Regions from separate parts of the Homo sapiens genome. Here regions 1, 2, 4 and 5 are each linked to region 3. The links come from fine-mapping of genetic effects on gene expression. A gene starts in region 3. Each other region holds a variant in brackets. All regions are shown on one strand. Distances are from middle to middle.

Evidence for each region. PIP is the estimated chance that this variant, and not a neighbour inherited with it, causes the effect. A credible set is the group of variants that fine-mapping cannot tell apart.
Region 1: its variant is the best candidate, but not a certain one, in a credible set for the expression of KCNK1 in spleen (GTEx, PIP 0.63).
Region 2: its variant is the best candidate, but not a certain one, in a credible set for the expression of KCNK1 in sigmoid colon (GTEx, PIP 0.63).
Region 4: its variant is the best candidate, but not a certain one, in a credible set for the expression of KCNK1 in atrial appendage (GTEx, PIP 0.51).
Region 5: its variant is the best candidate, but not a certain one, in a credible set for the expression of KCNK1 in thyroid (GTEx, PIP 0.57).

The regions. Positions count from the first base shown.
Region 1 is chr1:233,456,957-233,463,080 of GRCh38, forward strand. No RefSeq gene overlaps it. Among named protein-coding and RNA genes, the nearest start is that of MAP3K21, 130 kb to the left of the region's middle. The variant T/C (reference allele first, on the strand shown) is at 2,703.
Region 2 is chr1:233,655,590-233,661,713 of GRCh38, forward strand. The region is part of intron 1 of KCNK1 (potassium two pore domain channel subfamily K member 1); the gene reads left to right. Among named protein-coding and RNA genes, the nearest start is that of MIR4427, 34 kb to the left of the region's middle. The variant T/C (reference allele first, on the strand shown) is at 3,504.
Region 3 is chr1:233,610,631-233,616,754 of GRCh38, forward strand. KCNK1 (potassium two pore domain channel subfamily K member 1) reads left to right here and starts at 3,476. Exons shown (of 3, transcript NM_002245.4): 1 at 3,476-3,896. The coding sequence starts at 3,542. RefSeq lists enhancers at 2,602-3,254, 4,443-4,502 and silencers at 3,043-3,142, 3,503-3,572, 3,913-3,972.
Region 4 is chr1:233,672,277-233,678,400 of GRCh38, forward strand. It overlaps KCNK1 (potassium two pore domain channel subfamily K member 1), which reads left to right. Exons shown (of 3, transcript NM_002245.4): 3 at 1-238. Among named protein-coding and RNA genes, the nearest start is that of MIR4427, 51 kb to the left of the region's middle. RefSeq lists an enhancer at 5,187-5,809. The variant C/A (reference allele first, on the strand shown) is at 3,874.
Region 5 is chr1:233,581,466-233,587,589 of GRCh38, forward strand. No RefSeq gene overlaps it. Among named protein-coding and RNA genes, the nearest start is that of KCNK1, 30 kb to the right of the region's middle. The variant G/T (reference allele first, on the strand shown) is at 3,283.

The DNA.
Region 1 (6,124 bases), 150 kb before region 3:
TTATTAGTTTTTATGAGTTTTAATGTTGTCTTTGGAGCAAGATAAAAAAATAAATTGGTTGAAAATGCATGTTTCCTACAACGAGTTGAAGCAGTGATAATTCATGTGGCCCTTAGGTGGTTTTGGGACAACCCAGTGAATTTGCCTGCTTTCAATCTAGTTTTGCCATTTGAAAATTCACTTTAGCTCTCAACTTGATCTTTTAAACAATGAGATATCAAATTAAGGGAGGCATTTTATAAGCTAATTCCTGCCCTCCTGCCCTCCTGTTGGAAGCCACATACCTCTTCTGTGGAACGTTTCCTGACACTCTCAGGGACAAATGGGCTCTCTCGTGTAGCCACCACTCTGGCCTGCAACTGAGGACACTTTATTGCATTTATTTGTTTGTCAGTCTCCACCTTCCTAACTGTCTATCTTTAATTTAGAAATTCTTTCCTTGTTCCTCACACATAGTTGATGTTCAATAAACTTTTGTTGAATGAATGAAATGAACTTCTGTGAAGTTATATCCACCCTCTGTATATAATAATAATATTGCATTATTGTGGCATGTCCACTTTGTGCCAGAGCCTTTTGAGATGTATCTTCCCAGCAGTGCTAATAGGACGACATTATTATTATCATCTTCGTTTTATAGATAAGGAAAATGAGGCTCAGAGAAAGCAACTCAAAGTCATGTAATGAGCAAGTGGCAGAGCTGGGATCAGAACCCAGATCTCTCTGGCTTCAAAATTCTTCCAACTAATTTTAAAATCAATTAATTAGCTAATTAATTAAGTTTCCAGATTTATTGAGGCATAATAGATAAATAAAATTGCTTATATCTATGGTGTACAACATGAGGTTTGGATACATGCATACATTGTGAAATGATCACCACAAGCAAGCTAATTAACATATTCACCCTCACATAGTTGCTATTTTTTTATGTGTGTGTGTAGGGGTGAGGACACTTAAGATCTACTCTTTTAGCAAATTTTGAGTATACAATACAGTATTGTTAACTAACTACAGTCACCATGCTGTACATTAGATGTCCAAAATGTATTTAACCTGCATAACTAAAACTCTGAACCCTTTGACCAATATCTCTCTAATCACACCTCTCCCCTGCACCCCATGCTAGCCCCTGGCAATCACCATTCTCTTCTCTGCTTCTATGAGTTCTACTTTTTTAGATTCTCTATATAAGTGAGATTATGCAGTATCTGTCTTTCTGTGCCTGGCTTATTTCACTTAACATTCTGTCCTTCAAGTTCATCCATGTTGTCATAAATGACAGGATTTCTTCTTCTAAAGGGCTGAATAATATTACACTGTATGTATATACCATATTTTCTTTATACATTTTATCCATTGATGGACACTTAGATTGATTCCAAATCTTCTCCATTGTGGACAATGCTTCAATGAGTTGTTCTAATTATTATGCCTTTTTAATCCATTGAGGTAAAAGAGAGTGGATCAGAAATATGTTCCCTGCAAACAACTGTTTTTGCCCTATTTGTGTTTTCTGAGCAGTGGATTAGTGAAAAGAAGACTGGGTTGGATAAAAACTTGGGTCTTTGCACTGATTGTTATACTAACCAACTGCTAGGCGGCCTTTTGTCAGTAACTTTACCTCTCTAAGCTCAGTTTTGTTTTGTTTTGTTTTCTGTAAAGTTTGGATAATGATATTACGTATCTCATGGTTTTTGTAAAGATAGATAACATTAGACAATGTACCACAAAATGATGCTTTTTAAAGTAGAAGTAAAATTAACGAAATATTTTCCCTTGGTATGTAGCAGCGTTTATTTTTTAAATGCTGGTCTGGCATAGCTGTGTGAAAGGAATGGTTTAGATCTGTGTCTGGCCCAATACTATAAAGAGAAATGAATGTGCTGGGGCAGTGCTTGATAGTTGCTCAAAAAATAAAAAATTATATATTTTTTTATTTGGACTGCAGTAAAGGTATATATAGGAGCTTTAATTTCTCAAGTACATTAGCAAAATCTAGTTTACCTTTTAGTATGAGAGATGATTCTTTAAGAGATCAAGGAATCCAAGACCTTTGTAAAATGGAATAGACTCAAGCCCTGTTTATTTACTTATTTTTTTGAGACAGAGTCTTGCTCTGTCACCAGGCTGGAGTGCAGTGGCACAATCTCGGCTCACCGCAACCTCCACCTCCCAAGTTCAAGTGATTCTCCTGTCTCAGCCCTCCGAGTAGCTAGGACTACAGGCGTGCGCCACCACACCCAGCTAATTTTTGTATTTTTAGTAGAGACGGGGTTTCACCATGTTGGCCAGGATGGTCTTGATCTCTTGACCTTGTGATCCACCAGCCTTGGCCTCCCAAAGTGCTGGGATTACAGGTGTGAGCCACTGAGCCTGGCCAAGCCCGGAGTTTTGAGTCTCAATGTCAGGGAGATAGTGGACAGGGAAGGCCTGAACTGTGTCCAGTGACAGGAAGAGAAAATAAGGCCCCAGGTATAAAACAATCTTAAGTAAAGAAAACATCAACATGGTATGGTAACCATGCATTTTATGGTCTGTGTGCTGGTGCTTTGACATCTGGGGCCTTGCTGACCTTGGGGAGACTGCCGTCCCAGGGTTTGCTGATCTCTAGAGAGCATCAGTCATTTTCCCATGAGCATGCTTTTCAAATGCAAATCAACCAAACCAGAGCTCATACCCCTAGCCATATTTTTTTCTCA[T/C]GGGTTCTCATACTCTGGGACACTCTCCACCTACCCTAGTCACCCCAGACAACTAGGGTCAGCTGCTACAGCCCATAGCCCTCTGAAATTATTCAAACCAGCCAATCATAAGCCCATGTGCCCTGCCTTACCTGTTCCTTCCTGCAGAAACCACAGTAAAGTCTTTTACCCACAGTCCCCTGCCCCCTCTGCCTCTGACCAGCCCTGGTACTTCCCCAGGTGGCCTCTCCTCCTGGGAACCTTGAGTAACAACTTCTCTTTTCAACAATAGTCATCTTGTGATCTGTTGGCCTTACTCTACTTTGAATTTTTAACTAATACACTATATGTTAAAACACATACTGATGGCCCAGGCTGAAGACAAGGGCTTCAGCGGTCATGGAAAGGGTTGGCTTGTGTACAGAATAGCACTTGGGAGGCGTTAATGATCTTTTGGAACCTGCCCCTGGGCTCAGTGTTATGTTTCTGTGACTACACGTAGACACGTGAACTAAGAGAGCATCACTTGGTGCCCTGTTATGCTATTTCATAGCCCCCTGCAGGAATGTCAGGAATGTGGAGCAGCAAGGCTGTGCTCAGAGCAGACAAGTGTGGGTCTTGTGGCTAGGGGCCAGTATTCGTCAGCAACATTATGTGGTGCTGATGAGAGGCCACAAATGGCCCCAAAGACACCACTTCTCCTCCCACTTTGGTCAACTTTGCTTGGACCAAACCTCCAGGGTGCTTGGGCAATTTGAGGGAAGAGGGGAGAAAGACTCAAGAGAAGAGTGTTAGATTTCCTTCTAGTAAAGCATGTTTGCTTAAGCAGTTAACAAGCAAGAAGAAGAGTCATGATCATAATAATATAGATCTCATTATTGTTACTCAGTCGCTAGAGTTGGAATATGGTTTTTGTTGTGGAGATTAGTAGGAGGGAGAAGCCTCAGGGAAACCTGAGAAGTGGAGAGGGGCATGGAAGGCTAAAAGATGGGGCAGGCAGGGGGCCTTGTTCAGCATCACACCTCTCTACCCAGAGCTTCTCCTTCTGTACCTTCTCTCTGCTCAGATCACAGACTTTGCAGCCCAGAAGCTGCTTCTTGGCAAGTGCAGCCTGGGGCTCTGCCCCTGAGACTTGCTGCCACGTTTGTTATGCTTGGAGGTCCTGGGGATCCCAGACTGATGAACCTGGTCGTGTCTCACAGTGTACAGAGACACTTTAGAGTGTTACAATTCCAGAAAGGCTGGCCTTTGCCCCACTGGCCCAGCACTGCAATATCACTGTGCTGAATACTAAGTGTGAAGAGTACTGAGATGCTTCTTTCTACTCAAACATTATAAACATGCAGTTTCTTTCTCTAAGTAATTGCAAGCCTTCTGCTGTAATTCGTAGTGGAGGTCCCCACAGATCATTCGTCTTGCTCACAGCTCTCTTCCAATTACAAGAGAAGCCTGTTCCTTGTTTTCTTTTTGATTTTTATTTATTTTTGATTGACTAGGGGTGGATAATAGACAGTGTTTTAAGAATAATGAATTCAGAGAGAATGTGAAAACTACAGGGCCTGGAACAGGTCTCTCATCTTTTTTTTTTTTTTTTTTTTTTTTTTTTTTTGAGATGAAGCTCTGTCACCCAGGCTCGAGTGCAGTGGTGCAAAAATCTCGGCTCACTGCAACCTCTGCATCCTGGGTTCAAGTGGTTCTCCTGCCTTAGCCTCCCAAGTAGCTGGGATTATAGGCGCCTGCCACCATGCCTGGCTAATTTTTGTATTTTTAGTAGAGACGAGGTTTCACTCGTCTCTACTAAATTAGATGTCATCTCTATTAAATTAGATGTTGGCCAAGCCAATTTTGAACTCCTGACCTCAAGTGATCCACCCGCCCTGGCCTCCCAAAGTGTTGGGATTACAGGTGTGAGCCACCGTGCCCGGCCGTCTCTCATCTTTTTATTGGTATGTTTAGACTCAGTATTCAGAGGTAGGGTCATCTCATCAAAAACAAGGTGATATAAATAGAGCAGGAATCATGACCCCAAACCTCCAGTGGCTCATTCAAGTAATTAAGGAAGTGATTAATTAGATTCTGAGATGAAAGATAAAACATGAGAAAAATGCTTTGTTACTCTCTGTATTAGTCAGGATTCTCTAGAGAGACAGAACAAATAGGAGATGGATATAGACATAGATTAGATATGGATGTAGATATAGATAGGTAGATGGGAGAGGATTTATTAGGGGAATTGGCTCAAATGATTATTGAGGCTGAGAAGTCCCAGGACAGGTTGTCTGCAAGCTGGAGACCTGGGAATTCTGGTAGTACAGCTCAGTACAAGTCCAAAGGCATCAGAGCCAGGAGTGATGCCATCAGAGCCAGAGGATGATGGTGTAACTCTCATTCCAAGGCCAAAGGCCTGAGAACCCAGGGGTCATTGGTGTAACTCGTGGAGTCCAAAGATCAGAGAGCCTGAAGTTGTCCAAGGACAGGAGAGGGACAATATATCCCAACTCTAGTAGAGAGATTAACCTATTTGCCCTTTCTGTTTTTGTTTTCTGCAGGTCCCCAGTAGACTAGATGGTGCCTGCCCACATTGAGGGTGGATCTTCCCCACTTAGTCCTCTCAGACTCACATGCCGATCTCCTTTGGAAACACCTTCACAGACACACTCAGAAAAAAAACGCTTTACCAGATTTCTAGGTATTCCTTATTCCAGTCAAATTAACATCAAAACTTAATCATCACGCTCCCTTATTTTTGTTTTCCTAATTGTTTCATGCATGTAAATAGCTCTAAGAGAGTCCATCAAAACCATGAAATCTCTTCCCTCCCAGAACTGGGTGGCACAGAAAGTGGTGGAGGCTGGTGTCACGATGCAGATGAAATACGGACCCATGTAAATACAGACCTGTAGTCTGCCACTGCTACAGAGGCTCCACTTCGTTGTGGGATGTAAGATGCAGGTGCAGACTGAAATAGGGAAACTCTGAGCCAGAGGAGGAGACAGTGATTTGGGCCTCCATATGCTCTGCGGGATATAGATCCTGAGCTCCACTGACCCCCATTCCAAACTTAGGAGGCTTCCTGCTTTGGCTGCCATTCAGGGACAAATTCATGAAGACTTCCTCATAGCTCTTCCTCCCAAGGCAAATCCATGGACACCCTCCCCTCTGGCTCCCCTCCCAATTGGTGGAGGCTGGGGGAATGGATCTAAAGTAGGAGGGACCTCAAATCTGATAGTTATTCAGGTCTTACTGGAGCTTCCAGAGAGCTGGGCCTTGGGATCTTCATTTATAAAATGAGGGGTTTGCACCAGGCAGTCCGTGCCAGCTCAGATTCTGCAAACATGATTTCCTTTACCTATTTATTTCTAAAGTAATGCGTGGGCCTGCACGATGGCTCACGTCTGTAATCCCAGCACTTTGGGAGACCAAGTAGGAGGATCACTTGAAGT
Region 2 (6,124 bases), 45 kb after region 3:
TGGTATCAGGAGGTAGAGCCTTTGGGAGGTGATTAGGTTATGAGGGTGGAGGCCTCGTGAATGAGACTCGTGCCTTTATAAAAGAGACATAAGAGGGACTCCTTCCTCCTTCTGCCTTGTGAGATTAGAGTGAGAAGTCTATGAGGAAGCAGCCCTCACCAGACACTGAATCTGCTGGTGCCTTGATCAGAGACTTCCCAGCCACTAAAACTGTGAGAAATACATTTCTGTTGTTTATAAGCCTGTGGTATTCTTTTGTAGCAGCTTGAACAGACTAAGATACCCTTGGATGAGGAGCAACTGAGGTAAAGTGGGAAAAAAAAAAAACGGCTCCAATGCCAAGGGCATACTGGACAGCTCTTTAACTTATGCTTGGTGGTTGCTTCTCATCATTTTCAGTTAATCGTAAAGCATTCTACTTTTGTGGATTTCAAGTCCCTAGGAAAGGATGCTGAAGGAAACGACAGTTTTGTGAGACCATCAGTAATTGTAATGTTGACACCTCTGCATTCAAATGGGTTACAGGATTAAACAAGTGTCATCCAAAGGACCATCAGGATGGCTAGATAACAGAAAAGAGAGTTTCACTGGCAATACTGGTTTACAAACCTGGAAGAGAGAGTCTCCGGTGTGAACTGAAAATGCTCTCTCTGAAGAACAAAGAGAAGGTTAGAGGTTTTATAAAAAGGAGAAATGTTGCATATTGCTCTTTGAGAAGTTTCATTGGCACCAGTAAGGTTTTGAGGAGCTGGCAGGCTTCAACTGATAAGTGAGGGTGGTGCGTAAACCCAGTCTGAGAGTTGCAGCAGGTCGTCTCAGTAGTCGTTAGACAAAACTGGTTTCAGGTTACTGCAGGCAGTGTCAGCTGCCAGGCCTGCAGAAAATTATGTTTTTTGGAGCAATGTTCTTCACCCTGAGTGCTTTTTCCCCTTGGCTTATTGATTCTTTGTTGGGTATGACAAGAATGACTCATTTCATGTGATCAGCTTTCACACAAGGGTGACAAAGCTTCAATTATTTATTTCTTTATTATTTATTTATTTAATTTGGGACAGAGTCTCTCGTCGTCTAGGCTGGAGTGCAGTGGTGCATGATCATGGCTCACTGCAGCCTCAACCTCCCAGCCTCAATTGATCCTCCCACCTCAGCCTCCCGAATAGCTGGGACTACTGGCACATGCCACCATGCCCAGCTAATTTATTTAGTTTTTGTATAGACAGAGCTCACTATGTTGACTAGGGTGATCTTGAGCTCCTGGCCTCAAGCAATCCTCTCACCTCAGTCTCCCAAAGTGCTGGGATTACAGGTGTGAGTCACCATGCCCAGCCCAAAGCTTCGTTTTAAGTCTCTTTTATTTACTTTTTTTGGTCCTAGTCATAACACATTGTAAATATACTCTGTCAGAGAATTAGATAGCTTGTTGTTTTTTAAGTCTTTTCTAATTAATCTGTTCATGTAATTTAGTAAGAAAATATTAAAGGGAAATCTTGCCCGAGAGATGGCCAGTACTGAGTAAGAAGCCCATTTGGTTTGTGTCTGGGAGGATGGGCAGTGAGGATGAGTGAGGATGAGTTTAATTTAGCTTGGTGAGAGGGGGACAAATCCACCTTTTCACGAGAGCTGCTTTCTCATCGCTTTTTGTCCCCCTTCATCCACAACCCCCGCAGCCAAGGCAGTGTCAGTAAATTTTGGGATGGAAAAGCCTTAGGTAGGATTCTTATGTTTTCGAAATGTGACTGATTGGAATTGGGGGAAAGCTGTATTAAAATTGGATATGTGGTAAAAGCTGGATATGTGGTTATTACCCATATCCAGTAGTGGGTCATGTTCCTGTGCTACCATGATCTGCCCGCAGTAACCTAGCAAGACATCAAATCACAGTGTGCAGTAGATGGTACCGTTGAACAAGCCAAGCCATATTGTCTGCAGGGATCTGAGATGATAAAGAGATTATTACAGAATTTGTTTTCATAAGGAACTGTGTAATTATGATGATTAGCCAAAGAAATAAGAAAGAAAGAAAGAGAGAAAAAGAAAGAAAAGAAAAGAAAGAAAAAAGAAAAAGGAAAGACGAAAGAAAAGAAAGAAAGAGAAAGAAAAGAAAGAAAGAGAAATAAAGAAAGAAAGAGAGAGAGAGAGAAAGACAGCCTGGTCTGTTACCTATGCTGTCCTACTATAGCATTTAATATCTTACTGCAAATTTTACTAAGTTATAACTTAAAAGTGTTAATTTTTTTTTTTATCACTTTGACAAACTTAGCCTCCTACAGCAGAAGGTGACTGATCAAAAGCTGGACTGTCAACCAGGTACTCACCAGCTTAGAGAGAATGGAGAAAAGGAGTATAAAGAATTTGAATAATTGTATGTAACATACGTGTTTCTTTTGAAATTTCAGTTTTAGGAAGCAAGGCCTGATGAGATGATCTTCATTTGTGAGAGTATGCAGAGGGTGGTGTGAAAAGACATGGCAGGGATTCGTATTTTTAAAATGGATGGAAAAACAGTTCTAAAAATATGAAAAAATAAGGACAAATAATCATAATTTAAATTCTCAAGCTAAGAAAGGTTCAACACATTTCAAAGTTAAATTGTAAACAGTGTTAGGGAAAAGAAACCATACAGAAATGGGACAACAGGGATCCATTAGAGTTGGATATCATTCATTTACTAGTTTGAGGGGCAAAATAAATAATTATATGTGTTTTTAAATCATAGAGAATGAACCCTGAAAATGTTTAATGCTTAGAAAAGAAAGCATGTATAATAGAAATTTTAATTTGGCCAAATTGCTTACTTTAAAATTAGAAAATTCGATTTTTTTGATTGCATAATTTTGGACACATAATTAATAAGCAGGTAGATTAAAAGGAAAAACCTACATATTAAGCAAGAATCATCTAACAAAAACAGTTCCTTATATAAGAGACTGTATGCTAACTCCTAGATGCCAAGAGAGAAAATGAGACTACATGAGACTACAGTCAAGCGTCACCTAACGACAGGGATACGTTCTGAGAAATGCATCCTTAGGTGTTTTTGTCATTGTGTGAACAACGTAGAGTGTACAAAGCTGAATGCTATAGCATATTGCTCTAGGTTACAAACTTGTATATCATGTTACCGTACTGAAGACTGTAGGCAAGTGTAACACATGGTATTTGGAGATCTAAATATATCCAAACCTAGAAATGATACAGTAAAAATACAGTATAAAAGATTTTTTAAAATGGGACACCTGTATGAGACACTTAGCATGAATGGGGCTTGCAGGAATTGAAGTTGCTCTGGGTGAGTGAGTAAGTGGTGAGTGAATGTGATGGCCTCGGAGATTACTGTTCACTACTGTAGACTTTCTAGACACTGGACACTTAGGCTAAGTTCAGTTATTTAAAATTGTTTTCTTTCTTCAATTTATTTTCTTTCTTTAATTTATTATATTAATCTTAGCTTTTGTCACTTGTTTACTTTATAAACTTTTTAATGTTTTTAATTTTGATTCTTT[T/C]GTGATAACGTTTAACTTAAAACACGAACATGTTATACTGCTGAAAAAGTATTTCCTTTATATTCTTATTTGGTAAGCTTTATTTTTAAATTTTTCAGTTTTTTTTTACTTTTTAGATTTTTTTTGTTAAAAACTAAGACACGAACACACACACTAGCCTAGGCCTACACAGGGTCAGGATCTTCCACCCGCACATCTGTCCCACTGGAAGGTCTTCAGGGGCAGTAACACGCATGGAGCTGTCATTTCCTATGATAACAATGCTTTCTTCTGAATTCCTCCTGAAGGACTTTCCTGAAGCTGGTTTACATTTGACATTTTTTTTATTTTAAATATTTTTTATTAAAAAAAATGTCAAATGTAAACCAGCTTCAGGCAAGTCCTGTAGAAGGAATACAATCTAAAATAATGATAAAAATTAGTAAAAAATTGTAACTATATAAACCAGTAACAGTCATTTATTATCATTGTCAATATATATACATACACTATAATCGTATGTGCTATACTTTTATGCAAATAGCAGCGCAGGAGGTTTGTTTACACCAGCATCACCACAGACACTTGGGTAATGCATCGCCTTATGATGTTACCATGGCTACGACATTGCTAGGGGATGGGAGTTTTTCAGGTCTGGTATAGTCTGATGGGACCACTGTCATATATGTGGCCCATTATTGACTGAAACGTCGTTATGTGGTACATTGACTACACTGCCGGCAAGCTCCTATTTAAGTAAACAAACACAATAAACACAAACAAACATGAGAAGTCCAGAAGAAAGGCCAAGGATGATAAGAGAACCTTCTTAGGAAAAGGAAGCTACATCAGGGCAAGGGGCTGGTTCTCACCTGGAAGACACAGTACTGCACACTGCAGCCAGATGAGTGCCATTTTCATGTTTCAGAATGGAGCCATCTCCAGGATATACTGTTAAAAGAAAACTCCTAACAGTAACCTCTGGAGAGAACTAGAATTGAAGAGGACATGAGTAGTCAAGGGGACATTTGCTGCATCAGTGTTGTTTGAATATTTTACAATGAAAATATACTTATATATTGAGTAATTTATAATCATAATGTACAATTTTGATTTCTACTTTTACCTGATATTTACGTTAATGTCTTTAGAATATAACTCATTCTTTGGGCTGTTGGACATCCTATCTTACTTAGCTGGTATCTCTGCAATTAGATATTTATTTATAAACAGGGATTCCTTGAGAGTTATCGTTTACATTAAATAGTTAAATAGGAAGATAAGTATTTTATTGGAATTTAGTTTATGCTTATATCACTGATATTAATTATTGCCACAGAAACTCTACTTTTGAAGATCACCACTAATTTGTTATGTTTCATGTTTGTTTGTCACAATTTAGGGACAGTCTTCATTGATGACCTTACTATTTACCACAGAAGTTCATCTATGTGGCTCCAAACTCTATTTCAAGAATATGAAAGGCATGTAGGTTATGCCTACGTTCTCGGACCCTTGATAGATGTTTTGCTGACCCACCTTCTGATATCTGTAGAGTTACCCTAGGCTCCACCTTCCACCAACCAGTTCTGTGTGTGAGTTGCACGGTCCTTTGTTCATTACTAAACGTTGTTTTTGCGCTCTCCTGTCCTCTCATTTCAGTCTCACTATCTTAGAATCAGCTTCACGGAACCACAGGAAAGACATCATTGTTCTTCTTTTGCAGGTAGCGAGTAACACCACCCTCTCACTGAGAGCACCTAAGAAATAATGTTAGGACTTGAGTTGACTTTTGATGCATCCGTGTCCTTTGTATCATATAATATATCTGGATTGGTAGAGTGCAAAGATTATGGGCTCAACTTGTTATTTGTATGACTTTGAGCAAATTGTCTAAACTCTCAAATACTCAGTCTTTTTATTTATAGAGTAGAAATAACAACTCTAGGATTTGGAAATTGTTATGAAGGTTCACAATTATTCTGCATACACTACAGCTTATACACATATGGCAAGCAGCTAGGTGTGGCTGTTTTTATTGAGTGTTTTGAGCCCGTTTCCCTCCTTTCCAGAACCTACCTCCTCAGACTGATGGATGCATGATGAGTTCCCCTTGCCTAAGTTATTATTTCTAATCGTTCTTTCACTGCGCTGCCATTTTTAGTGGAAACTTCATTGCAAAAAGTGCAAGGTTCTCATCTGTGGAACTTGAGTTGTTTGCTGGCTCCCCTAGCTTTTAAGTGTGGTGTATTAATTTAGTCCCTCTCTCAGATGTCCACTATAAGGTAAAGAATTGATGCCATGTCCCAACTAGGAATGCCATTGCCTCTCTGTCTTTGCTTGTTAGCAAGAAACGATTCATGAATGAGTAGAAACAACAATAAGTGTTTAGAAAAGTATTAAATGAATGAGGCAGTAAAAAGTGATCCCAAGAAAATCCTAGACCACTTGCACCTGCCATGACTTGTTACCTCTGTGACCTCTTACCATCTGTGCCTCCTTGGTCGCGTGTATTGACTGTAGCCCACTTTCATTCTGTCAGCATTTCTCTTCAGTCTATTTAGAGCTCCCTTGAGCCTTCTCTCTCTGGCAAACTTCTTTTTATAACATAAGCAAAATAACGGAAGATGTACATTCCTTGT
Region 3 (6,124 bases):
TAAAATTCAATGTAGTCAAGATGCATGTTGTTCCAGTTATCTATTATTGTATAACAAGCTAGCCAAAAACTCGATGGCTTAAGACAGCCATCTGATGATATCTCAGGATTCAGGCAGAACTCAGCTGGGAGTTCTGTTCCTGGGTAGATAGACAGAGGTAAGACACCCAGTGGTATTCAGCAGGTGGATGCCCTGGTTTGAGAGTTGAAGATGGCTACACTCATCTATCTGGTGTCTTGGCGAGAATGATAAGGAAGCTGGGCTCACTGGGCTGTCCCTTGAAACACCTACATGTGGCCTCTCCAGCATGACAGCCTCAAGTTAATCAGACATCTTATGTGATGGCTCAGGGCTCCAAGAGGGGATTGTTCCAGTGAACAAAGTTGGAGGCTGCTGGTCTTTTATCATCTAACCTTGGAAATTACCTAGTATCATCTCTTATGTACTCTGTCAGTTGAAGTAGTCACAAGTTTCAAGGATAGGGGACAGAAACCCTACCCTTTGGTGAGGGACTGTCAAAGAATTTGCAACCATATTTCAAAGCTGCCATATACATGTTGGGGGAACCAGCCCCACACCAACCGGCGGGTACCCCGAGTCCAGCGGAGACACAGGAGTTAGAAAGAGGCAGAATAAGCATTTAAAAGGTGGGTCCAGGGGACCGTTGTGTAGGAGGCTTGCTCATGGCCCAGAGCTCTTGGGCTCCAACTAATTTATTGTTTTACAAGCTCTTTGTTCTTAGGGCAGATGGGAGGGGGAGGAAGGGATGAGGAAAAGGATTAATCAGTGAAGGAGAACTTGTGAGTCATTCAATAAGATGTACAGCAGTGGTGGTCTCTGTGAATTTCCTTGAGCAAAGGCGTGTGTCTAAACTACTTAAGATTGCGTGTGTCTAAACTACTTAAGATCTTTAACTTATTGGGACTGAAAGGGGTGGGAGCGGGTTTCAGGAGGAGCCAAGATGTTTGATTATACTCCACTGCTTCCAGGGCGTGTTATCTCCCTGAGCAGCCTGTGGAATGCCCCCGAGCAGTTATGCTCTCAGGGCATAAAGACATGAAGGCAATAAGGAGACTTTTCTCCTCAGAGGTCACCCATGGCTCCCCATGGGTGTCTCACACAGGGGAGAACAACTCAACTGGCACTCCAGAAACTCTTTTTCCCACAATACATGTATGTATATTTGAGTGTGATGATATAACCACACCTGCACCTGCAGTTCATCACAAGTACCCCACACAATCTGGCATTCAAAGGGTTGTATGTCTTGGGAAGAGGAACTCACATCCTGTTGGGGAATCACAGGTTTCATGAGTGAGCCAGGTCCTGAAGGATATAAACTGTGTTACAGATGGAGATGGAGGAGGAACTGTCCAAGCAGAAGGAATCAGGTGAGCAGAGACATAGGGAGAAAAATGATCATGACAGGCAGGAGGAGAATTCTGAGGGTCTGCTACGGCCGGGGGTAGCCTCATGAATGAAGAGGTCTCTGAACAGGGCAAATAGGCAAAGATCAAGGATAGGATAGGGCAAGCAAGGGTTACAGAGCAGGACAGGGAAGGACATTGTAGGATGGAGACTTGAGGGAGAAGGAGGAATTCAAGTTCTAAAAGAGTAGGGCACTTGCTGATGGGGAAGGGTTCCCAGAGGCGGAAGGACTGAGAGTGGTAAGTGCTTCCTTTCACCTTGAAAATAAGGAGGTACATTTTTTCCTTAGGGGTAAGAGCAAAGGGAAGAAATGGATTACCGATGAGTAAATTTTGAAGTACAGAGAAGTAAAGTGGAGGGCTGGCTTCAATCTTTTGAGTAACGTAGGAGGTAAGGCTATTGACTAAAAGTGAAAAATCACTGATATATATGTTAGACATTTGCACAAGTTTCTATGAAAATACAAAATATGACTTGTTTAGAGAACTTCAGTAAAGTAGGCAAATGTTCAGCTAGGTGTTGGAATGATTAATTGTACAATTCAGTTTTGTGTATTTTAAATGTTTTTCCTGATTACAAAAATAATATATATCCACTGTAGAAAATTTGAAAAATATTAAAAGGTACAAGAAAGGAAAGTCATCTATATACTCTACTATTACCCAAAGACAACTGCAAGGAGATAGTTTTATTCCTATGCAGTTGATTAATAATGCAGATGTCATTTTATTTTGTAACAAAATACAAATATTTTACATATTTGAGATTCTACACAGTTTTGCTTCAATAGTCTTTAGACACAACTTTAATGTGTTTAATGTCTATATGGTGTCCATGCTGTAGAGATGCCATAACTTATTTAACCATTCTCTATTTTGGAATATTTAGATTGTTCTGAGTCTTCATTATTTCATCTATACCGTGTGTGTGTGTGTGTGTGTGTGTGTGTCCCACATGTGTATGCACTATATTATACAACTACATGTATGTATATATAGATACCGTCTATGACCAGTCTTTGTAAGTAAGTGCCTCTCTGATTGTTTTTTCTTAGGACATATCACTGAATCAGAACAAATAAACCCTTTCAAGGTTCTTGAGACGTGTCGCTAAATTGCCTTTCCAGAAAGGGTGTACCAATTTTTATTTTCATCCACAAGCAGGCGGCTCGCTGACCCTCGCCCACATTTTTGTCACTTTAAAAAGAAGTGACAGTTGGGAAAGCTCAGTTTCTTCTGGCAGTTGACACATTTGGGATGTTTTTTCACCAAAAAACCTAAGGTCATGTTTTAGAAAATTCGAACTCAGAAATAGGACTTCTCTGAGACTCTCCTTTTCCCTCAAGTCCTTTTTGTGAGGGGGATGGGTGGGAGAGAGGAGACTGATTCAAGGAGCCTTCCAACTCTGATGTTCTGGTATTTTCACCGTCATTACTGGCACCAGATTGCTCAATCCTTCGACCAATAAGACAAAGAAGGAAAGTACTTCAGCGCTTGCTGTTTTGTAATACTGGCTTTGATTGGGAGAAAATAAGTGGGAAACAAGAGTAGCTTGGACAGGGGGCTTGGACGGCCAGCGCATTGACCAGAAGCGGCCCACACTACACGCGCGCGAACACACACACACACACACGCACACGCCGCGCGCGGTCAGCTAGAGTTTGGCTACTGGACCCAGGAAGGGAGGGAGCGGGAGGAGCTGGTGGCTGTCGGGTCGGGGTCTGGGCGCCACCGAGCGCCCGCCCCACCTCTGGAGTGCGCAGAAGGCGGTGCGTCCCGGGCCCCGGCAGCCCAGCCCAGGCGCTCTGGCCAAGTTTGCGCGCGGTCTCCGCTGACTCTCGGGTTACCTGAGCCGGCAACCACGTCAGCGCCACATCATCTGGGCTTTTTATATTGCAAGGAAACAGGAAAAGAAGGAAGAAAAACATCGCCCGAGAGAGCCAATCGCAGGAAGACGGCGCTGCCCGGAGGAGCGGGGCGGGCGGGCGCGCGGGGGAGCGGGCGGCGGGCGGGAGCCAGGCCCGGGCGGGGGCGGGGGCGGCGGGGCCAGAAGAGGCGGCGGGCCGCGCTCCGGCCGGTCTGCGGCGTTGGCCTTGGCGGCGGCGGTGGAGAAGATGCTGCAGTCCCTGGCCGGCAGCTCGTGCGTGCGCCTGGTGGAGCGGCACCGCTCGGCCTGGTGCTTCGGCTTCCTGGTGCTGGGCTACTTGCTCTACCTGGTCTTCGGCGCAGTGGTCTTCTCCTCGGTGGAGCTGCCCTATGAGGACCTGCTGCGCCAGGAGCTGCGCAAGCTGAAGCGACGCTTCTTGGAGGAGCACGAGTGCCTGTCTGAGCAGCAGCTGGAGCAGTTCCTGGGCCGGGTGCTGGAGGCCAGCAACTACGGCGTGTCGGTGCTCAGCAACGCCTCGGGCAACTGGAACTGGGACTTCACCTCCGCGCTCTTCTTCGCCAGCACCGTGCTCTCCACCACAGGTAGGGTATCCTGCGCGCCCCCTGGCCGCCCCGGCCACCTCGCCCACAACCCACACACCCCGGCCCCGGCGCCCCGGGCCCCTCTAACCCTCCCACCCCACCCCCCACCTTTCGCCATCCCGGCTCCTCCAGCCCGCCTCCCCTCACTGTCCTCCCGACCCTCCGACCTTCCCCTTACTGGCGTCCCCGGCCTCTGCCTGGGTGACTCGGGAGGGCAAGCCCTGCGGAGCCGGAAGCCAGAGAGGTGACTCCAGACGTGACTTGGTTGTTGCCGTCCGTAACTCTGGGGAAGTGGTCCCTAACTTCGGCCTGGGTGGCTGCAGGTGCTTCCTCCCCTTGAGTTCTTTTTTCGCAACCCACTAAGCCAAACTGTCGGGTTTGAATGTGTAGCAGCACCTGGCCGCCGTGCGGCAAGGCAGCGGGATGATGGAAACTCACCACCTTCCTCCCGCACCCATCCCAGAGGCCGAGGCTGCAGTCTGGTAATAATACCTTCTAAAGGGTCACCTTCCGGAGTGTGCCGTCCCTTTGGACCATGCACAGATATTCCAGCTCTTTTGTACCTTGGAGGCAGTTTTGGGGGTAGCCGAGTGACATCACTCTGCTCTTCCCAGGTGACCTCTGGGCGGACAGGCCGATCCGGTTTCTTTTCAGAGTAGGAGGAAGGGTGAGGGAGAGTAAAGGAACCATAGGATTGCCTAAGATCTGACTTAATTGGGGCACCCTGATTCAGCAGTTCCTTCAACTTGAGGTGTGCGAGGCTCCCCATAAACTTCGAAGCGCCACGTCCCCGTACGACTCACCCGCGGGGCGCCCGGCCATGGAGGAGCCTCCTCAGGTGAAAGATGAGGCCGGGCGCATGCCCCAGGGCTCGGTCACTGTGCCAGATCAGATGAATGAAGGCCGAATTTCCCCAGCCGGACCTAGTAAGGCACATACCCAGAGTGGAGATATCAATTGGTATTTGGACAGTGGGAGGAATCTGAAAGAGCGTTCAGCACAGTCCCTTCTTTTGATCTATGAGATCCAATCTTTGAAATAATCCATCTCGTCATGCACAAGGTCACACACTTCCTAGTTACCAGTGTCGTCCTGGAACCTGGGCCTTGTGATTTCTCTGCCAGGACCACTTTGTAACCCCCCACCCTCAACCTTTACAGGTGAATCACATCCCTTTGTGTGACTCCCAACTCTTCCTTCCTCCCCACCCCCCTCCACCACCCAAATTATTGTGTATAATTCCCTTTGGGCTATATCTTGTTGACTATCTTGGTAATTACTTGGTAATGAGTAATAATACACTATTCATGTAGATCACATGAAACAATTATTCAGAGGTCTGGGGTGAATTACTAAACTGATGTAAATCTACCCTGAAATAAACAGAAGTGGAATTCTAGCTTGTATTGTGAGATCTAAAAAACTGTTAAATGTAGCGCTAGACAAGACAGACCTGTTATCTCACTTTCCAAAGAATGCCTGTTCCCTTGCCAATACAATTTAATTTTTCTTTCCATAACTCTGCCTCCATTGTCTTTACCTAGTCCTCTGTTCCTCAGATCATTTAGGAGTCACCATGCCTTTCCTTTGGAGTATATTTGTGCTATATTGAGAGTCATTCATTCTTCCCAGAAGTAAGTGTTTCCATGGGGCTACAGAAAGTTTACAACTGGGTCACAATGTTGGGTAAACATTTCGAAGGATGCTTATAGCGTGTGGTGTTTTCTTACTAATGATATTGTGAGGATAGAACAAGAATAAGAACAGTTTTGAGGAAAAAGGTTTGCTTTTATCTGGGTGGGATTTTTCGTGACTCATGTATAGTCTTAACATCATATTGTCTAATTAAATGTTAAAAATTAGTTTATAATCTTGAATAGATGAAATATTCTTCCCAGAGGAGAATTAGAAAAAGGGATAGTTTCTGTTTAAGAAAGGGGTGGGGTGGGAATAGACGTCTTATTATTGGTATTCAGATTGCTTTGTAGTTCCTAAGAAAGTCTGTATTCATGCAAAACAAGTGTTCATTTAAGAAATCAGTGCAAGGGGCACTTAAGGATAAACTAAATGAAAAAGGTGCCTCTTGGTTTGTAAAGTTAGCACATCAATGAATTCTTGTTATATGAATACAACTATTCTAAATGAAAAGTACTCTTCTGTTGGCTTTGTACTGCCCCATTATTTGACACATTTGATATTTCTTAAGGTTTCAAAATTATAATTACCCA
Region 4 (6,124 bases), 62 kb after region 3:
TAGAATGGTGTCAGATGTCTAACATGTTTATAAACATTTTTTTGAATTGAACAGGTTATGAAAAGGATTTATTAAAAGGTTAAGATACTTTGTTTTGAAAGTACATTGTGATTTGCAGCCACCTAGCACTAAAGCATAGAACTTAAACACGAATCCCTAAATGAACAGATTATGTTACATTAATCTGAGAATTTTAAATTTAGAAGCTAAAATAAATAAAAATCACAGCTGGTTGTAATCTTATGCTTTCATATATCAGAAGTGTGCCTCTATGTAGAATATATATACATATGTGTGTGTATATACATATATATATGTATGTATATATATACATATGTATATATATATATATGTGTGTATATATATATATATATATACGTATATATATATATATAGTCCTTCATAGAAAACATAAAGGTCACATTTAGATGACGTACACAGGATACTATTATATTAAGGATTTTAGAAAAGAAAATGAGAAAGCCCCTGTGTGATAATGAATGTCCACTGACCCCCGCAATGGAGCCTTACCTCCCATGGGTGGCTGCCCAGGAGTTGGTGGTTGAGGGGCTGGTAAAAATCAGTGCAAAATCAGCGCCCTCTGATGAGCCAGCCAAGCACTTTGATCGCGGGCCAGTCTCCTGACAGTGGGTCACTCGCTCAGTAACCTTCTACCTTCTGTACCATGTGCTGCCATGAGTAAATTATTACCAACTGCAGGGCAAAGGGAAAGCATCCCCTTACCCTTCGGAAGATTTGCTGAAAAATCAACTCACAAAAAGGCAGATTAATGAGAAAAGGCATACACATTTATTAACTACCATGCACACAGAAAGAATTACAGAGTGATTGTCCAATATCTCAATAGGGGTTCACATGCTTAAATATCTTACTGATTAGAGGACAGGGAGATGGAAAAATATAGGTGATTTTAGAGGGATAGTATATGATTTTTAGAGGAATCCAAGTGTGCTGCCCCGTAAGCATATTTCCTCCCTGCTGACCATGTCCCTGCAATAGAAGACTGCTGTCATGAGGCCAGATCATTGGTTAAGGGTAGAATAGAGAATCCTTGGAGAATAGAGGCATGCATCCTGCCATAACTGGATCTGCAACATTTCCGATGGTCACAAGCCTTGGTGTGGAGCAGAGTCCTGAGATGCTCATCAATATAAATCACAGAAGCTGGATTACACTTGGAGAGTGTTATTCTATTTTATGCAATGCAGGAAAAAATAATGGCTAGTTTGCTACAGCTGCTTGGCTCTAACATGAGAGGGAAGTTCAAAGTCCAGAAAATGAGGAAGTACGTGAAGAAAAACTTCTGAATCAGATGTGATTAATAAGTAATAGAGTGTAGTACTTAATTTTAGGAACTCGTTTGAATCCGCAGAGAACACATTAAACCTTAATGCCCTTCAGATTGTTGTTAATGTGAAGGGCAAAGTAGAAAAGTAGGAGCAAGTTTTGCCTCGGCCCCCACCCTAGCAGGCAGGAAAGTAAGGGAGGATGTCTTCCCCAGGGTTTCTTTTTGTCTTTGGCCGATGATGCTGCCCTTTGGTCCCCAGGGAGAAGCGAGCTTGGTCACCCAGGAGGAGCTCTGGGTCAGCCTCTCAGAGAACAGAAATTCGGCTTGCTGCAGGCATGACAAGGAGGTGGAAGATGAACAGTGTAGCTAAGCCAGAACTGACCTTGGGAACCCTTTAGTTGGAGGCGAGAGAGTGGGAAGTTGGAGGTAAAAGTGACTACTAGAGAATTCTGGGTGATGAGTACAAGCTGAACTCACTTGCTTAGCTTGAGCCTTCAAGATTGAGTTCCTAAGATGCCTGCGGAATGCCCTCAGGGTAGAACAGCAGCAGAAAGCCTTATCATTCCAGGACATGGTCCTGTGCGTGAACTTAAATGTGACACGTGTCTGGTAGGGATGTTGATTTCAAAGTAGCAGATACACTCCACGTGAGGAGAGAACACAGAGTATCTCAGAGTGGGAGTTCCTAAGCTCTCAGAAATCCAAGGGAAGAGAGACCAAGGGGTGGGAGTAGTCTCTAAATGAATCATGTAAAAGATTCCCAGGACAGATAAAGTTTAGCCCAGATCACTCCATTTATGACACTGGTTTCTTTCTATAGTAGTCATGCCACCAAGATATTTTGAAAGTATTTGTTCAAAAGTTGAAGAAGACAAGTGGGAGAAAAAAGAAACATTTTCTGAAGACAGAAATTTGGTCTGACTTCAAAAAAAATCGAGTAATGTTTAGATTACTGACATGGGGTCACTTTTTTTTTTACCTGAGAAAAAAATCACACTCATACTTTCTCCAAACCAGCTTTATGGGCCTTTTGGAAAATGAATGAGGAGATATTTACAAATCTGGAGACCTCAAGATAACGGAAATAGGCAATGCAAAACCTTCTTAACTCTTTAAAGTACACTGACCTCTTACTAAAAACAGCTATTTGTTTCAAAGAAGAAAAGTTTTAAATTGGCAGAAGCACATGTTGGAGAATTAGAACAGTATTATCTGTCTCTTATTCAGAATTCAGTGAGAGCAGAGCCTCCTGATTGTCTGGCATAATACATTTATTTTGGTATTTGTTGTTGTTAAAGCCTCCATGCTGGGAAGAGCTGTGATAAATACTGATATCCTCAATTTAGGAAGGCAGTCCCTTTAGGATGTAGTTTCAGCAATGTATATATGGCAAATTTAGAAACAAAAGTTTCTTAGCAACTTATAGTTGAAATTGAAATGAGACAGTATACCATTTACTTTATTTGACTATGCCAAGTAACTTTTTAAATCTGTCTCTGTAGCATGTTTGAGATTTTCCTATTGTGACTTTTTTTTTTATTTTGCAAGGGTCTTACATTGTGGAAATTTGGTGCATCAAAGCCTTTTGTGTGAGGCAAGATGTAAAATTGCTGAAGTCAATTTTCCTAACATCTCTCTTATCTAATATGTACTGTCAGGCAAACTCAGCTTTTTGGAGTGCAGTAAAGGACCCAGAAGTAAATAAAAATGCTTTTTAAAGTATTTTTCATGCCCTGGTAGGAAAGCACATTTAAAAAGAAGTAAGCCCTCTCTTTGCTTCACTCATGGCATACACATACTTACTTTGCACACAGTTCTAACAAAATTATTACTCTGTTTTTCCAACCCACAGAAAATAAAGGAGAGAGTTGTATTAAAAGGCAAATTTAAGACAAATTAATTCAACAGAGTTTATTTGAAATTAAAGGATTCATGAACTGGACAGCATTCAAAGCCTGAAGAGGTTCAGAGAATTTCACTGTAGCAGCAAGAGGTGTGGGGTTTTATAGGCGGAACATGCAAGCAAAGCAAAGCAATTGCTTGATTGGCTACAGCTACGTATTTGTCTTAATTGAATATGATCTACTGGAAAATCCCTGGGCTTGTTGGTGGTTTCTGACTGGTAAAGGTTTTTTGTTTGTTTGTTTAACTGTTTATGTTGAATTGGGCTTGGCTGGATTTGTTCACCTAGGAAACAAAGGGCTCTGAGGCCATCTCAGCCTAATGGCCTCTCAATTATTTTAACAATTGCTACCCAAATTTTGTGTCAACATAAATGACGTTACAATTTGTGGTGACACAATTAAAGAATTTAAAAGTCTCCATATGCAACTTGGCAATAATTACTGTGCAATCACTTAGGCGGCCTTAAAATAGTAAGCAGTCTCTCAGTTTCTGTAAAAGCATCCACAGCACTTGCACCATTCCCTTAGCATCCTGTGGCACTCAGCATCTGCGTAGAACAGTCTGACCACTCTATTTTATACTGAGAAGGAGAAATGGTCACACCCTCTAGAGACATGACCACCTGTCTTACTGAAAGCAATTTTTGACTAAGTCTGGAG[C/A]CTCATGGCAGCTAACATGCTGCTCTCAAAGGGGGCGCCACAGTGTACTCAGAGCCACAAACCACACACAGGTGGCCTAGCAAATTTTTACCAATGTGGAAAACCCACATTTTAAGCCAATGACAGAACATACTCGGGTCAGTATGATTACAAAGTATGAATACTTAACTTGCGGAAAAAAAATGGATTTTCATTATTTTCATAATGATTTCACTACTGTGATAAGATTTTCATTATTTTCATAATGAAATGTTATTAACACAATTTTCATGACAACATTAAATGATGTTTACAGACATAAAGTAAGTGAATAGTATTTCCATGCAAAATGGTTAAAATTTGCTTTAAGATGTTTCCTTTTTAAGTGGTAATTCTCTTTGCTTAGAAAATTCCCTCAGGCTAAACATCTTATCTTCCACCATGAAGTAACTTGCTGTCTACATATGAAGATGACACTACTGCTAAAATCTTGCATAAATAAATGTCTATATTATTTATTTTAGGTGAAGAATTTAGCTTAGTTTTGAGAGTCTTTTTCATCCTCTTGGTTTTATTATTTATATAAATGACTGTAAGCCAAAAAGTATCTGACACAGGTTCAATCAATGCAGAAGTTTATTTTGTCAAGGTTAAGGACGTGCCTGTGACACAGCCTCAGGAGGTCCTGATGACATGTGTCCAAGGTGGTTGGGCTGCAGCTTGCTTTTATATGTTTTAGGGAGACATAAGACATCAACCAATACATGTAAGATATACATTCGTTTGGTCTGGAAAGGGAGGACAACTCAAGATGGGCGGGCTCCCAGGTCATAGGTGAATTCAAAGATTTTTCTGATTGGTAATGAGTTGAAAGAGTTTATCTAAAGACCCAGAGTCAATAGGAGGGTGTGTTTGGTTTAAAATAAGGGGTGAAGGAGACCAAGGTTCTTATTTTGCAGATAAAGTCTCCAGGTAGCAGGCTTCCGAGAGAATAGCTTGTAAATGGTTTCCTATTAGACTTAAAAAGGTGCCAGACTTAGTTAATTCTCTCCTAGATCAGAAAAAATACCCAGAAAGAGAAGAGGATTCTCTATAAAATGTAGATTTTCCCCACAAGAGACAGCTTTGCAGGGCCATTTCAAAATATATCAAAGAAATATATTTTGGGGTAAAGTATTTCTATTGCTTTCAGGGCCTGCTGTCATATCAGCATCTTATTGCTACAAAGAGTCTGTTTTGTTAGACTTAAGGTCTCTGTTTGAATGTTCATGCTGGTCAGTTGTGTCTGAATTCCTTCCATGGAGGCATGTCCACCCACTCATTTCCATCACAGCCTGAACTAGTGTTTCAGGTTAACTTTGGAATGCCCTTGGCTGAGAGGAGGGATCCATTTAGTGGTTAGGGGGCTTAGAATTGTATCTTTGGTTTACATTCCATGTGTAATTGCAAACATACATATTTTCACCCACATAACTCAGCATTTAATTTTCGCTTCTAAGCAATGACGAGACACCCCGAGCCCATCGGCCACCAGATATTCAGACCTTCCAGTGAGCTCATGGGTGTTCAAAGACATCAGCCTAGTTGACCCCAAACTCCTGCCTTACTTTGTTCTTGCCCTGCGTAAACATCTTTGGTTTAAATTGCTGCATTCATTTGGGATAAGTGCCCTTTTTGATGTTCTCCCTTGCATAACGAAAGCTTTCCTCTAAGCGGTTGTTACCAACTTAGTACATGGTGTGATGCATTGCAAATTAGGACAGTGTGACCTTAAAAACTGGAACCAAGCCTATTCTCACCCATTCAGCAGTGACCAAGCGAGATTTTAAAGGTCACTGTAATTTATGGCACATGCTAGAGCTGGCAGAACTCTATTAAAAAGTAAAATAATAGATTGCCTTTTTGTCACAGTCTATCATTTTTCCCTCAGATTTTGGGGAACTGAAAAGGAGATCAGGCTGCCCCAGGGACCCCTGTCTTGGGAGAGTGAAGCAGAGCCCAGGGCATGGGCATAGCCAGACATTGACAGCACACATTTCTGTTGGTGACTCCCTCCAAAAGGGGCACTGGCTGGAGAAGGACGACAAGCACAGTGGGTCAATGTGGAAACCTAGCTGTGCCACCTGGAACACTTCTCCGGTCACTATGGAGGGTCTTAAAGAGACTAATCACTGCACTCACATTTGTTTTCTTTCCAGCTGATCATCTGTGTTACTTACGTCTGTAGATTTCAAGGTTCCATGGCTATATCTAAGGTAAAAAGAGGAGAAGT
Region 5 (6,124 bases), 29 kb before region 3:
GCCCCTCAGCTATCTCAGCAGAAGCCAAAGGTAAAGAAGGGCTCACATAAAAAAAATATTAGGAGTGTGGGTTTTGTCTAACGGAGCGAATCCCTGTGAAATAAATTCAGGATCCACAATGTTCTTGAGAAAATTGCTTCAGCAGAAACACTACCATCTTAGACAAAAAGGAAAAAAGAAAATATAAAATGAAAGGGAATGTGGGATCCCCCCAAATTCTGCTAGCAGGAAGCAGGCTGATAAATAACTCAACTGCAAACACCTGCTACATTTTATGAATAATTAAGGATAATTCAGAGGGTGGAGCCGTGATTGCGCCACTGCATTCCAGCCTGGGTGACAGAATGAGACCCCATCTCTATAAAAATAAAAATAAAATTTGTATTACAGCACAAGGGATGGAGAAGGAGTGAGACGGTGTGCACAGAGCCTAAGGGGTAGAGCCAAGTGCTTAGAGGGCAGGGTTAAGAGCCTAGAGGGTGGAGTCAATCACCAAGAAGGCAGAGCCAAGAAACTGGGGCGTGGGGCCAAACACTACAAATGATTGTTCTCAGGCGATATTAGTCCATTAGTGTGGCTATAAAAGAATACCTGAGACTGGGTAATTTATAAAGAAAAGAGGCTTTTTTGGCTCACAGTTCCGCAAGCTTTACAGGAAATGTGGTGCTGGCATCTGCTTTTAGTGAGGGCCTCAGGATGCTTACAATCATGGAGGAGAGCAAAGGGGGAGCAGGGGGGTATCATACGGCAAAAGAGGGAGCAAGAGCCATGCCAGGCTTTTTTAAACAACCAGCTTTCATGTGAACGAATAGAGTGAGAACTCACTCATCACCAAGGGGGTGCTGAAGGGAACCACCCCCAGGATACAACACCTCCCACCAGGTCCCACCTCCAACATGGGGGATTGCATTTCGACATGAGATTTGGAGTGGACACACATCCCAACCACATCACAGGCCTTGAAAAAAAAAATCGACATTTGCTTTGCTCTATTTCAGAATTTTATAAGCTAGTGGTTGCTTTTTACCTCCCATTTTTTCACTATTTGTGCTATAATTGTCTATAATTATCCTGCACAAGTCCCATCATATTATTTTCAGTGTGTTGGAGCCAGACGACTTGTCTCTTTAGTTCACAGGTCAGTGGACGGATTATACCCAGGGGACTCATTCTCAGCTGGGTTAGATGATTTGAATGAATTTGTGGACTTTGAGATAATGCTATAATGGGATGAGACCCTTGGGAATCTTGGGAGAGTGTGAATGTATTTTGCATGTGGGAGGAACAGAAATCAAAGTGAAGAGAAGTGAAGATGGCTTCAGAAGGCACTTCAAAGAAAGTGGGAGTAATCCTTTTTGTTAAACTCAGGTGATAAATATATCAGTTTTCATTCTACTATTTTTCTTTATATCTTACACACATAAATGCTTTCTTACTTAATATTTAATGAAGACAACTTATTTTTAAAAAATCAAAAAAATTTAAAACTTCCAGTTCAGTCTCACTACATAGTGGAGACTGCCAGTTGTTTGTCAACATTCAGTCTTTCTTTTCTCCACAGTGGTAGACTGATAGCTGGGTTAGTGTGCCTGTTACTATAAGTTCGCCAGTGGCAGGGGAGTGAAAATGAAGATGTTGCTTTCAGGCTTGGGCCTTCTCACTCCTTCACCATCTCTTGTGCTGGAATACAGAATTTTGTTCATTATTACTATTATTTTATAGACATGGGGTCTTGTTCTGCTGCCCAGGCTGGAATGCAGAAGTGCAATCATAGCTCGCTGTAACTATGAACTCCTGGGCTCAAGTGATCCTCCCTCCTCCTCCCACCAAGTGACTAGGACTACAGGCACACACCACCACCCCTGCCTAATTAAAAAAAAAATTTTTTAGAGATGAGGTCTCACTATGTTGCCCAGGCTGGTCTAGATCTCCTAGGCTTAAGTGATTCTCCTGCCTCAGTCTCCTGAGTTGCTGGGATTACAGGTGTGAGCCACTGCACCTGGTTGGAATACAGAATTTAATGGAAATTCAATGGTATGGATGAGAACAATGCTAGTGCCTGGTTTTTAAATTCTTCTCCAGTTGGCAGCATCTGCATCAGCAGCAGCTCCTGCTCATTAAAGATGCAGAATACCTGGCACCTCCATAGACCAACTGAATTAGAATCTGCAGTTTAATAAGACCTCCAGGTGATTCCTATGCACATTAACATTTGAGAAGTGCTGCTCTAGGAGATGGTGTAGAAACAAGATAAGAGGACCTCAAGTCCCTGAATGACTTCATGGAGCAGAACTGGACTGTTATGTAAGAGAAATGAAATTCTTGATGTCTAAGGCACTGTATCAATGGGAGACTTTGCAATAGTGATAGGAACAGGAGGCAGAGAAATTCTAGGCAGGAAAGGGCAGGCTCCCTGGCAAAGCCCCACCCCCAAGCCTGGAACCATGGCCCAAAGTGAGAACATGTATTTCTGTTTTTCCCACTCAAATGTTGCCTTTTCCAAAACCACCATGGCCTGCCCTGCTCCCCGTCCTATACCCATAAAACTCCTGACTCGACTGCCAAAGGGCAGAGAAGGGGAGAAGAGGAGAAGCAGCTGGACATTGGAGACTGTGGTTTGACATCAGAGAGAAGCAGCTTGACTTCAGAGAGATGGCTTGATGACGTTGCTTCAGAGAGGAGTCTGGCCGGGACAGCCGGACTCTGGGGGAAGATCACCTTCCCACTCCATCTCCCTTCCAGCTCCTCTTCCTGCTGAGAGCCACGTTCATTGGCAATAAAATACTTTGTATTCATCACCCTTCAATTTGTTTGTGTGACCTGGATTCTCCTGGATGCTAAACAAGAGCTCAGGTGCCACAGGTGCAGACACTGAAGGCTGTCACACTGACCCTCTGCCCTTGTGAAAAGGCAGAGGGCTCACCGAGCTGTTTAACACTTAACCCATCTGTGGATGGCAAAGCTAAAAGAGCACTGTAACACACACCTTCTGGGGCTTCAGGGATTGCAGGTACCCCTCTAGGCGCTGCCACAGAGCTGCACAAAGTTTTGCTCCTGCCAGCACCCAAAAGCACTCATTGTGGCTCCTGCACCCACTCACCTGTGGCGGGCTGAGTAAGCGAGGCACCCCTGTCACAAGGCCTGCAAAGGGGTCAAGGAAATTTTCCTGTGTCAATAGCAGATTAGCTTCACTGAGCACAAGTGGTTTGCCTTCCATCCTCAATAGTCCCCAGCTACTCTGGAGGCTGAGGCACAAGAATCACTTGAACTCTGAAGGTGAAG[G/T]TTGCAGTGAGCCAAGATCATGCCACTGCACTTCAGCCTGGGCAACAGAGTGAAGCTGTCTCAAAATAAATAAATTAATTAATTAATAAAAAATAGCCCCCATTAGCGAGTCTAATTGAGAGACTGAACAAAATAAGTGAAAGTTGAGGCTTCCAATGTAGATAATGTTGGTTCTGAAAGTAAATTCCTCTTAGTTTTTGGAATCTTCAGGGACTATAACTCAATAGCTTGCTACCTGTCTTCTTGCCATCAGAGGAAGCCAAGCAAACAGTCCCCATGTTCACATTAGGTTCCCAATCAGTATTTCCCATCAAGGGAGAAGCTTAGGCTGGGGAATCCTGCATACATAATTCATACCCATTATCTCAGGCTTGCTTTCTTCAACTTAAGTAGATAGGTGTATATAAAGAGACCACAGCATGAAGAAGAAAGATTAAAATAAAGATTAAAATGGGCCCTGGAGGAAACAGATAGTGCAGAGCACATAATGTAACTGAATAAAAGCTTTTGCTCTGATACTTAGCAAGAATCAAAAGGATATTTCAGCCATTAAACAATAGCAAGTCTATGAAAATAGAACAGAGAACATAAAGTTTATGTTTTTAGACATTAAGTTTATGCTTTTAAGTTTAAAAATGAGTAAAATAGAAAGCAAAGTAAAAGACATCTCACAAAACACAGAGCCACAAGGAAAGTGATGAAAAAATTTGAGTAAAAAATAGGCCTAGGAAATTCTGGATTTGAATAATAATGGGATTTCCTATTTTTGTTTTTGTTGCATTTGCTTTTGGGGTCTTAGTCAAAACTTATTTGACTAGGCCAATGTCCAGAAGAGTTTTTCCGAGGTTTTCTTCTAGGATTTCTATAGTTTCAGGTCAAGCATTTATGTTTCTAATTCATCTTAATTTTTATATATGGTAAGAGGGCTGGAGTTTCATTCTTCTGCATACGGCTAGCTAATTTTCCCAGCACCATTTATTGAATAGGGTGTTCTTTCCCCATTGTTTATTTTTGTTGACTTTGTCAAAGATAAGTTGGTTGTAGGCGTGTGGTTTTATTTTTGGATTCTCTATTCTATTTCATTGATCTATGTGTCTTTTACACAGCAAAATAAATAATCAACTGAGTAAACACACAGCCTACAGAATGGGAGAAAATATTTGCAATCTATGTCTCTGACAAAGAAGTAATAACCAGAATCTGTAAGAAACTTGGACAAAGCAACAAGATAAAAACAAACAATCCCATTAAAAACTGGACAAATGATAGGAACAGACATTTCTCAAAAAAAGGCATACAAGTGGCCCATAAACATAAAAACAATGCTCAACATCACTAATCATCAGAGAGATGCAAATTAAAATCACAATGAGATGCCATATCACACCAATCAGAAAGGCAATTACTAAAAAGTCAAAAAACAACAGATGTTGATGTGAATGCAGAGAAAAGGAAACACACATTGTTGGTGGGAACACAAATTAGCATAACCTCTATGGGAAACAATATGGAGATTTCTCAACTAAAAATAGGACTATCATTTGACCCAGAAATCCCCACTTTGGTCATCTACCCAGAGGAAATTAAATCATTATATAAAAAAGAAACCTGAACTTGTATGTTTATCACAGCACTATTCACAAAAGCAAAGTCATGGAATTAACCTATGGGTCCATCAACAGTTGATAGGATAAGTCAACTGGATAAAGAAAATGTGGCGTGTTTACAGCATGGAATACTATGCAGCCATAAAAAAGAATAAAATCATGTCCTTTGCAACATTAAGGGTGGAGCCAGAGGCCATTATCCTAAGTAAAATAACTCAGAAACAGGAAATCAAATACCACATGTTCTCACTTATAAATGGGAACTAGACAACGGGGTATACATAGACATAATGATGAAAATTATAGACCCTGAAGACTTCAAAAGGGACAGAGCAGGGGGAGTGAGGGTTGAAAATTTACCTATTTGGTATCATGTTCACAGTTTCAGTGATGAGTATGCTAGAAGCCCAAACCACATTGTTAAAAAATATATCCATGTAATAAACCTGCACATGTACCCCTGAATCTAAAATCATAATCATAATTATAATGGATTTCCAAAAACAGTAGATAGAATGGAGGCAGAAATTATCAAATAAACAGGTGACTTTCATTAGAGCTGAAAAAAGACCTGTCTTCAAATAGAAAGGACTTATTAAGTGCCAAGCAAGATGGATATTTGCAAAGCTATAGACACTGAGAATAAAGAGAAAAATCTTAAAATTTCTCCAAGAGGAAAACGAGTCACTCAAAACAGAGGAGGAGTGAGCCCTGACATCATATTTCTGATCAATTTCACTGTGTGTTGGAGAAATGGAACAATGCCTTCAAAGCTGTAATAGAAAATGATTTTATGCAGCATCGTATGTTTCGGCCACACTAGCAACTCGAAGACTGAACTAAAGATATTTTCACACATTTGAGTTAACCTCTCATTCTTTCTCTTTTCTTTGGGAGCTACCTGAAGATGTACTCTAGAGCACTAGAAAATCACCCCGGAAAGTGGAAGGTATGGGGTACCAGGAACAGGGGTTTCTGCCAGGAAAGCAGCAAAGTCTCAGAGTGAACACTGTGCTGCAGAGCTAAAGATTCACCAGCGCTGTTTGGAGTAGGAAGACCGGAGCACCAGAGGGATTGCCAGGGAAAATGTCACTCCCCAGAACAACACGTAGTGTGATTGAAAGGATAGAAAAACTTTTTATAATAAAGGTACTTAATGCAAGGTGGAAGAATAATGAAAAACTTCAGGATAACAAAAACTATAGTGAAAAAAACCCACTTGTCCAAATAGAAAG